Regions from separate parts of the Homo sapiens genome. Here regions 1 and 3 are each linked to region 2. The links come from fine-mapping of genetic effects on gene expression. A gene starts in region 2. Each other region holds a variant in brackets. All regions are shown on one strand. Distances are between the middles of the regions.

What was found. PIP is the estimated chance that this variant, and not a neighbour inherited with it, causes the effect.
Region 1: its variant is fine-mapped to the expression of MLLT3 in breast (GTEx, PIP 0.96).
Region 3: its variant is fine-mapped to the expression of MLLT3 in whole blood (INTERVAL, PIP above 0.99).

Annotation. Positions count from the first base shown.
Region 1 is chr9:20,318,133-20,320,891 of GRCh38, forward strand. No RefSeq gene overlaps it. Among named protein-coding and RNA genes, the nearest start is that of MIR4473, 92 kb to the right of the region's middle. The variant A/G (reference allele first, on the strand shown) is at 1,645.
Region 2 is chr9:20,621,520-20,624,275 of GRCh38, forward strand. MLLT3 (MLLT3 super elongation complex subunit) reads right to left here and starts at 980. Exons shown (of 11, transcript NM_004529.4): 1 at 726-980. The coding sequence starts at 737. RefSeq lists silencers at 269-318, 389-538, 959-1,418, 1,439-1,578.
Region 3 is chr9:20,208,457-20,211,215 of GRCh38, forward strand. It overlaps a transcript of SLC24A2 not described here. Among named protein-coding and RNA genes, the nearest start is that of MIR4473, 200 kb to the right of the region's middle. The variant T/C (reference allele first, on the strand shown) is at 1,247.

The DNA.
Region 1 (2,759 bases), 300 kb before region 2:
TCGATATTTCCTCTCTTGCCCTTTGGGCTTTTGCTCAGATCTCAGGCCATACCTGCTCCCTCTCTGACTGCCCCTCTCCCTCTGTGACCTGGCCCTGTAAACATCCTAACCCTGCTTCCCTGGTGAACTTCTTTTTCATCCTCGAGACCTTATCCTAGTCAACACGTTTTCCAGGAGGCCTTCTCTGGCCCCTCAGACCAGCCCACCATGTGCCCCTTGGCTGCAGGCAATTCCTCTTTCATTATCCTCATGCGCTTTGTGATTTGGGGCCTGGTGGGACAGTCTGCTGAACCATTCATTCATGGGTGTTCTGTGGTTCCATTTCTTCATTTCTACCAGGTGCCTGGCTTTGCATTCCTTTGCTGCAGGGATTTTTCCAGAGAGAAAGTGGAAGCTGAAGGAAGACATTGTTCTTCATGTAAAACACCCAGTCCTTTGCAGGCAAAGCAAAGGGTGAGAGCCCTTCCTTCGATGACAGGAAGAGAGGAGAGAAATTCTCAAGGTGGATGACGGTAGACAGATGCTGAGCTTAGCAGAGACCAGACTGAAATGTAACCAAGTGTTAGTGGAATACTTTTCCCCTGAATACATTTACTAAAAATTCAGCCTTTTAAACAATTTTTTGTTTTGAGTTGGTGTCTTCCTCTGTCACCCAGACTGGAATACAGGGACACAATCATGGCTCACTACAGCCTCAAACTCCTGGCCTCCAGAGATCCTCCCACCTTGGCCTCCCAACATGCTGGGCTTTTTAACAATTTTAAGTCATATGTTGACATGGCTGCTGTTAAGAATATGACAGATGATAGAGGAAAGAAATTGGACAATTAAGTGCCCAGTCTCCTATTAGAAGTTGGACAAGAGTACCTACTCCCCTATCATCCAAGGGTGGCTCAGGCCCTATTCTGCAGACCACCCCCTCCCCTCCCTGGTTAGAGCCTGCCTGTGTCTCCGACAGAAGTGTGCCTAGGGAGCTGTGAATATTCCTCAGAGAGATGGCCAAGGCGTGCACCTGAGGACGCCAGGGCCTTGTCATGGACTTTCCAGCTCAGGTGGACATTCATATACCCACAGGTCACACTGACACAGCAGAACACACTGAGCTGCCTCACATCTTGGCCTGCTTGCCCATCTGGAGACTGAGGTAAAATAGAGATGTTGGCAGCAGCTATGATGGACCAGAAACCAGAGGCCCTTCCTGTGTTTTCAGAATCCTCGTGAAGGCCCTGGGCTTCTGGTGCAAAACTAGGAGTTGGAATTTCCTGCTGCCCTGGCAGGATGAGAGCTTAGAGTCAGCTTTGACTTAAAGAAAACAAACAAAAGTGTGTATTTTTGCACATGAATTGTTGACTGAGGTTCATGCCCACACGATTTGTTTAACGTGTGACTTTTCCAAGTCCCTGACAGCCAAGACTGCCTGAACTCACGGCCCAACGCCCCAACGCATAGTAAGTGCTCGGTCAATATTTCCTGAGTCGAGTGAATGGGTAGTTTTGGAAGTCAAATCTTGGAAGAGCATTTCTCTGTTTCCTCCGGGCAGACCCTGCAGGCATCAGCTCCAGGAGGCATTCGTCCTGACGGTCCCCTAAACCCTGCTGACACATGAGCAGACACTGCACAACTGCACTGGCGGTTTCTGTCCAG[A/G]CAGGCACTCCCTCTGTGGTGAGAAATACCTCTGAAGTTGCCTAGCATCTTGGGGCTCCTTGCCCATCTTTAGAATTTTCAAGTGCCCCAAGCTATTGTGAATGTGTTCAATGTTTATATTCCAAGCAGCTTGAATCTATGCCTTGCAAAAATGCAAGTTGGAAAGTTAATTCATTCCTTTATGTCAAGGTAATTGCAGTTTCACCCTAATCCTCTCTTGTCAAAGACATTTCTACAATGCAGGGAGTTATCTTTTACAAGAGACACTTCAAGGTGATTTAATAACAACACTTGCTATGAGTCACATTTTCCCTGTAGTCATCTACTCTTCAGCTTGGGAGAGCAGGGCTTCAAGTACAGAAGAGAGAAGGCATTTGGCTAGTCACATAACCCACTTACACACGCTCAGCCAAATGTACACCTTCAAGAGAAAAAGAAAGCCCTAATGAGCACTTGTGGTAACTAAGGTGCTAAACGAGATCTTTCCAAGCAATGCTATTTTTGTTTGTTTGCTTTAGGGCAAGCTATATTCACTCAGTGCTTTGAAACTTAAGACACGTATGAATTTCATGACTGCGGACAAAGAGGAAATTTGATATGGAGATTAATTATTAATTCAACATTTACTGAGCCCCTACTATGAGCTGTGCTAGGGGCTTGGCTACAACAGCACACAGGCTTGCCTGCCAGCTGCCCTCACCAAGCTAGTGGTCCAGCAGGACTGCAGATGTCAAACAAATAACAAAGGCCAAAGATGTCTCTTTCTCTCTCTGTCTGTGTCTCTTTTAAATGCAAAACTATAAATTTATTTTATATACTCCTTTTTACTTCATCTGCATGATAAAAGGAATACAGATGTATTTTTTAATGTAACCAAATTCCCATCTCACTGCGCAGTAGGAAAAAGTCTACCCACTCCTCACAGTTTCTAGTTCTCCCCTCACAGTGGAGCTCATCAAAAGGCAGAGGACATTGGCTGGGACGTGACCAGGTTTCAGGCAATTTGGGAGTGAAAGGCCAGCAGGCAGCTTTATCTTGAAGACTGTTCAGCTCCACAGGGTGACAGATTCTCCCACCAACCATGTCTCTGTCAGCCTCAGCCCAAGAGAAAATTG
Region 2 (2,756 bases):
AAAAGCCCCACGCGATCGGCGAGGCCAGTCGAACCGAGCCCCCGCAACACACTTTCAAGAGCCCAAGTGGCTCCAAAGTATCTCCCACCTCCCCCCAAAAAATGAAATTCAGAAAGGCAGGGCGGCGGGCGGACAGCCGCCGAGCCTCGGCTCGCGCTCAGCACCTCCCGGCGCTGGGGCAAAGTTGCGTGCGGCCCCGCCGCTGTCAGCCCCGCACACTTCGGCTCACACACGCGCGCCGCGGAGAACGCACCATCGTAGCGGCCGCGGCGCTTTGCGGAGGTGCGGCCGCCGAGGCTGCTCGCCGCGTCCCCGGACTGTGCCCGCAGCTCCCGGCGGCGGCGGCTGAAATATGGCTGAGTTATTATTCGCCTCCTTCCACCGTGTGTGTGTGTGTGTGTGAGTGCGCGCGTGTGAGCGAGAGGGAGTGTGTGAGTGCGCTTCTTGTGACTGCAAAGAGGCGAGGAGGGAGGGAGGCGCGGGGGGTGGAGGGGCGAGTGTGAGCGTGTGTGAGTGTGTGTGTGTCTGTGTGTCTGTGTGCGCGCCGGGGGGGGGTGGGGGAGGAGGGGAGCGGAGGCTGAGGGAGAGGCGGCAGCTCCCTGCAAGCCGTACCAACCTTTCTCTAATTGGAACCGCGGAGCGCTGGCGCTGTCTGGGCTGCGGCGGCGCAGGGCGAGGAAGGAAAGTGGGGGAGGGCTTTTATTATTATTTTTGCGCGTACTTACCGAGCTAGCCATGCCTGGGGGCCCGGAGGTTTGCTGGGGTGTTGTGTGGTACCCCCCCCTCCTCCGCCCCCCCTCAGCTGTAATTCATGAAGAGGCTGCTATGAATGAGAGCGCGCCCAGGAGCGGAGGGTAGATGGCGGACATTCTCTGCCTTTTTCCCCCCGCGCTCGCTTGCTCGCTCGCTCGCTTATTAAACTCAGCCCCAAAAGCAAAAGCAGCAGCAGCAGCAGCAGCTCCAGGGTAAAGAAGATGATTGCGGAGCATGCGCCGTGGCGCCTGACACCCGGGCTCCGAGCCTCACAGGGCGGAGGGAGGGCTTGCGGGCGGGGCGGAGCGCGCGGGGAGGCAGAGCGAGCGAGCCAGGGGGAGCTCGAAAGAGCCAATCACCTGCCACCTCCCGAAACCCCGGCGGCCCGCAGCGCCACACTGGAAAGCCTCGCTTAAAGTAACAGGTTCCTGCTGGGGGGGTGGCAGGGAGGGGACGCAGGAGTGGGGAGAGCGGCCAGCTGGGGAGCCATCCCAGCCCCTGTGTAAACTCTGCTCGCCCTACAATAAAAAACGGATTAAAACTGCTGGAATGTAGCCACTGCTTAGAGCCCTCAGCAGCCGGAGAGGGGGTGTTAAATCAAGTCCTTAGCTAGTACGCACGGGGAGGAGGGAGTGGGCTTTCTTTTACTTTCCACCACGTATTTCTGTGGTTTTGTGCTGAAAAGACAAGAACTCACACCCAAACAAACTTACTTAAAGAGAGCGAGAGAAATGCCATCCTGCAAAAAACGAGCATGAAAATAGCAATGACTGAGGCTGTTCTAACCCGCAACGATCCCCTGGCCCCCTGCCCCATCCACTCACAGGCACCCGCCCGCCACCCTCACTCCCCGCCCTTCTGCCACCGCCACCGAAAATTTGAAAATGAAATGAACAAGGGAGAAACAAGGATGCTATTTCCTTGCAAGGGAACGCCTTCCGCTTTGGTAATCCCCGGCTGGGAAGCTTCATAAAGCGGTGCCCAGGTGAAAGCAAGACACCTGGGAGTGCCGGGTACAGACCCTCGGGGACCAGGCTTGGAGTTGTTTTCTTCGGGGGGCTTCCCCTCCTGACAGCCTACTGAGTTGCATCAGAACGTGGAGGATTGTCCTCTGAGGACGCGCGGGGCAACCGGGAGTCTTAAAATAGCAGATAAAGTTAATACTGACTGTAATGTGCGTAAATTGGATTATAATCTTTAGGCGTATTGGTGACAACCAGCGTAATCCATCTCTGAGTATTAATCCGGTTAGACTCCCGGGTGACAGCCAGTCGCAGGAGTGTTCCCAGAGTCGCGCCTCTGCAAATGTTCTCACTCGCGTTGTATTTGATCTCAGTGGCCGGAGATAGAACAGCGCGGCCACGCGTGGGGCGCGGAGAGGAGTATCAACTACTGGCTTCCTTTACAGACGCAGATAACCTTTAAAAAGGAAACGGATAAGATCTAGACGATTGATTTGAAAGTGAAAGATGGATGTGACTTTGGTTCGTTAAAAAAAGATCCTTGCATCTTCCTAGCCCTTAGACCTCTTTTGCCTTCTCTTTACTCCCCTTTTTCCCTCGCCTTCCAACTTCTTGCTGAACCTTGATTTTTCCTTCTCTTCTCCTTGCCTTTCCTCTTTGTCCCTCTTTCTTTCCTCTTTGTCCCTTTCTTTCCTCTTTGTCCCTTTCTTTCCTCTTTGTCCCTCTTCCTCTTTCTGACTGAACTTCCTTGCTTTCCTCTTTTCCCTTTACTTCCCTTTTCCACAAAAGCAAGTTGTCTCGGCCCTTGAATTGAGAAGAGCAGAATAGCGGGGAGGACGTTACCTAGGGCGTCCTGTGTCCTCGCTGTTAATTTTCAGTTCTCCCAGCAGCTCTCACAAAGATCCTGGGAATCAGGTCGGACCACTTGGAACCAACCTTAGTTTCCAAACCAGCAGCCTTCCAACTCAACTTTTGATTCCCTAAAACTGATATTCCGCTGCCTGTCAGTTATAATCAAGAAACTTCTTTGGCTTGAGGTCC
Region 3 (2,759 bases), 410 kb before region 2:
AAAGATAAATGGAGACTGTTTCCTCAAGTAACTACTGCTAAGAGAAAAGTTTTCTTCAGATGTATTTCTCCATCAGTGCTTTTCCCATAGGGCACCTAAAACCTTGATTTATCATAAATGTTTCACCCAGCATACACATACAGTAATACAAATGTGGCATATTTAAATGCACCCCTCAGAGAAATTTGCTGGCAGTGCTCATGACCCATAAATAAAGGAAAAAATAGCCCAGCTATGGTTGTTTCCAGAACGAGTAGATAGACCCCCATCTAGGCTACTGCCCAGAAGCTGAAACATAACTCAAGAGAGTCATGACCGTGTTACGGGAAAACCCGTTCTGGAGCTGGGACCTACTCCTCCTTAATGGCTGCCTCCAGAAACAGGAGGAATATTAACAAAGCTCTGTAGATTTCTTCAGCTGGTTTGTTGGACATGGGGAGCAAGGAAGTGGATCTGGCCAGTCAGCAACGTGGATCTAGTTGAGTAACTAAGGTGCAGTGCCTCAGTTCAAACTACGGCTCAACTGCTTACTAGCTCTGTGATCCCAGTTAACTTATTTACCTTGTCACTCATATGCCCTCTCTGTAAAATGGAGACATAAGTAGTATCTGTTTCATAGACTGCTGTGAGCATTAAATGTGATGATGTAACTCAAGGCTTAGCAAAGCATTCATTAAATGTTACCTATTACTATTATGATTGCTCACACCAGTCAATCAGCCAAGAGCATTTCCAGGTCTCAAATCAGTCAGGCTTCAAGACCAGCTTAACTGACTGTTTTATTCCCATATGTAACTACTTGATTAGCATGTTAAGGACACAGTTTCTGTAATGAATCACCCTGTTTTTAGTCTTCTTGCAGATAACATTCATTTTATGAAATTCTAGCCAAACAGCCATGCAAGAAAACTACTTGGTTTTTTATTTCCCTTCCTTATTGCTCATAACCTCTGTGTCCTGTAAAAATATTCTAAGAAACCCCTCTCTATTAAAATCTGAAACACAGTGCTAAACAAGCTCTCTTCCCCGAATTTGCCAACTGCTTCCTTTACTACTCTGAACAGACACTGCAGTTTTGAGAATAGCAGTTCTCTCATCCTGTCACTCACCAACACCCCCAGACTGGGGGCTCTTGAATCCCCATTCAGACCTGAGAGCTTTCACAAGTCCTCATTTAACATCCAGCAACGCCTTGAAACCAAACGCCAGCCACACTCACCCTAAGACTGGGTAAAGCATGAAGTAA[T/C]CACAGACTTTGATATTTTTCCGACCACAAACCCCCTCAAAGTCAAATGTGTCCATGAAAGAAAAGTGGCTCTTTCTTACCTAATCCACAGTGGAACAGGAATCAATAGAAACCACATCAAGATTGTGCTTGGTAAAAAATAAGAAAGACTTTCAAAAGTATACATTTGGTTTAAGTACGCCTGAAATATGAAATAACTAGAATAACACCATCCTTCTTGACCTTGATCATAAGGCCTTTCATAGGTATCTCTCAATACCTCAAGTGAAAGAAAGTAGTTAGAACCTTGAAACACTTTTTAAAACCTGCAGACAGCTTAATTGAAGGGGTCTTGTGAAGAGTTCATTGTCAGGGGTTTCTAGCAAGTGTTATTTCTTCCTGAATTCCACGAACCAAGTTCTCTGAAGTTTACATTCACACAGGATGAACAAGCCCACTGTGGTGGGCTTTAAAAGGGATAAAAGACCTGCTGTGGTTTTCTTTGGGGGACAGGTTTAACACCCGCACCTACACACCCAGACCCAGCACCTGGCAGGATGGCAGAGAAGCAGGTGGCCTCCCAGAGTTACAGCTTAAACTAACATCACATACATTTAAAGCAAGTGCTGGTAACTAGAAAAGTAATTTCTGACAGTAAGCAAATGGCTCTTAAATAATAAAATAAAATGTGTCAGGTGGTAGAAAGCAGTGACAAAAGACAAACATTTGGCTAAATAGCATTTAAAGGGAGAAGAAAAGATGGACAAAATCATCATGCAGAAGGCAGAAGGTTTTGTTTTTGTTTTTTTTTGAGACAGATCTCGCTCTGTCGCCCAGGCTGGAGTGTAGTGGCGCGATCTCGGCTCACTGCAAGCTCCGCCTCCCGGGTTCACGCCATTCTCCTGCCTCAGCCTCCCGAGTAGCTGGGACTACAGGCGCCCGCCACAACGCCCGGCTTTTTTTTTTTTTTTTTTTTTTTTTTTTTTTTTTTTTTCTGTATTTTTAGTAGAGACGGGGTTTCACCGTATTAGCCAGGATGGTCTGGATCTCCTGACCTCATGATCCACTGGCCTCAGCCTCCCATAGTGCTGGGATTACAGGTGTGAGCCACCGCGCCCGGCCACAGAAGGTTCTTGTGCACGTGAACGGTGCCAAGGGATGGGGCTTGTAAGCAAGGAGAGGGGAGAGGAAGAGAAATTTGACATGTGATTATCATCACAATCCCACTGCTGTTGCTGCCCGCTTCAGGTCTACCTTAGTCTGAACAGTCAATATAAACCTTTTGGATCTAGACTGTGTTCCGGAATAGGCAGAACTTTAGGTTTTAGAAGGACAAGACTGCCTTTGGCATTAGAAAGAAGAGGAAAAAAGATCTTTTTATTATTGCCATTAAACATATATCAGATAAACAGCTGCTGGAGCTAATGGCAAAAAAAAAAGAGACAAAGTTTGAATAAGCATTTGCTATCCTGATTGGTGTTAGCACTAGTCTTTCCTATCTTCTGGAAAATATCTGTTTGTTTTTGTAATTATA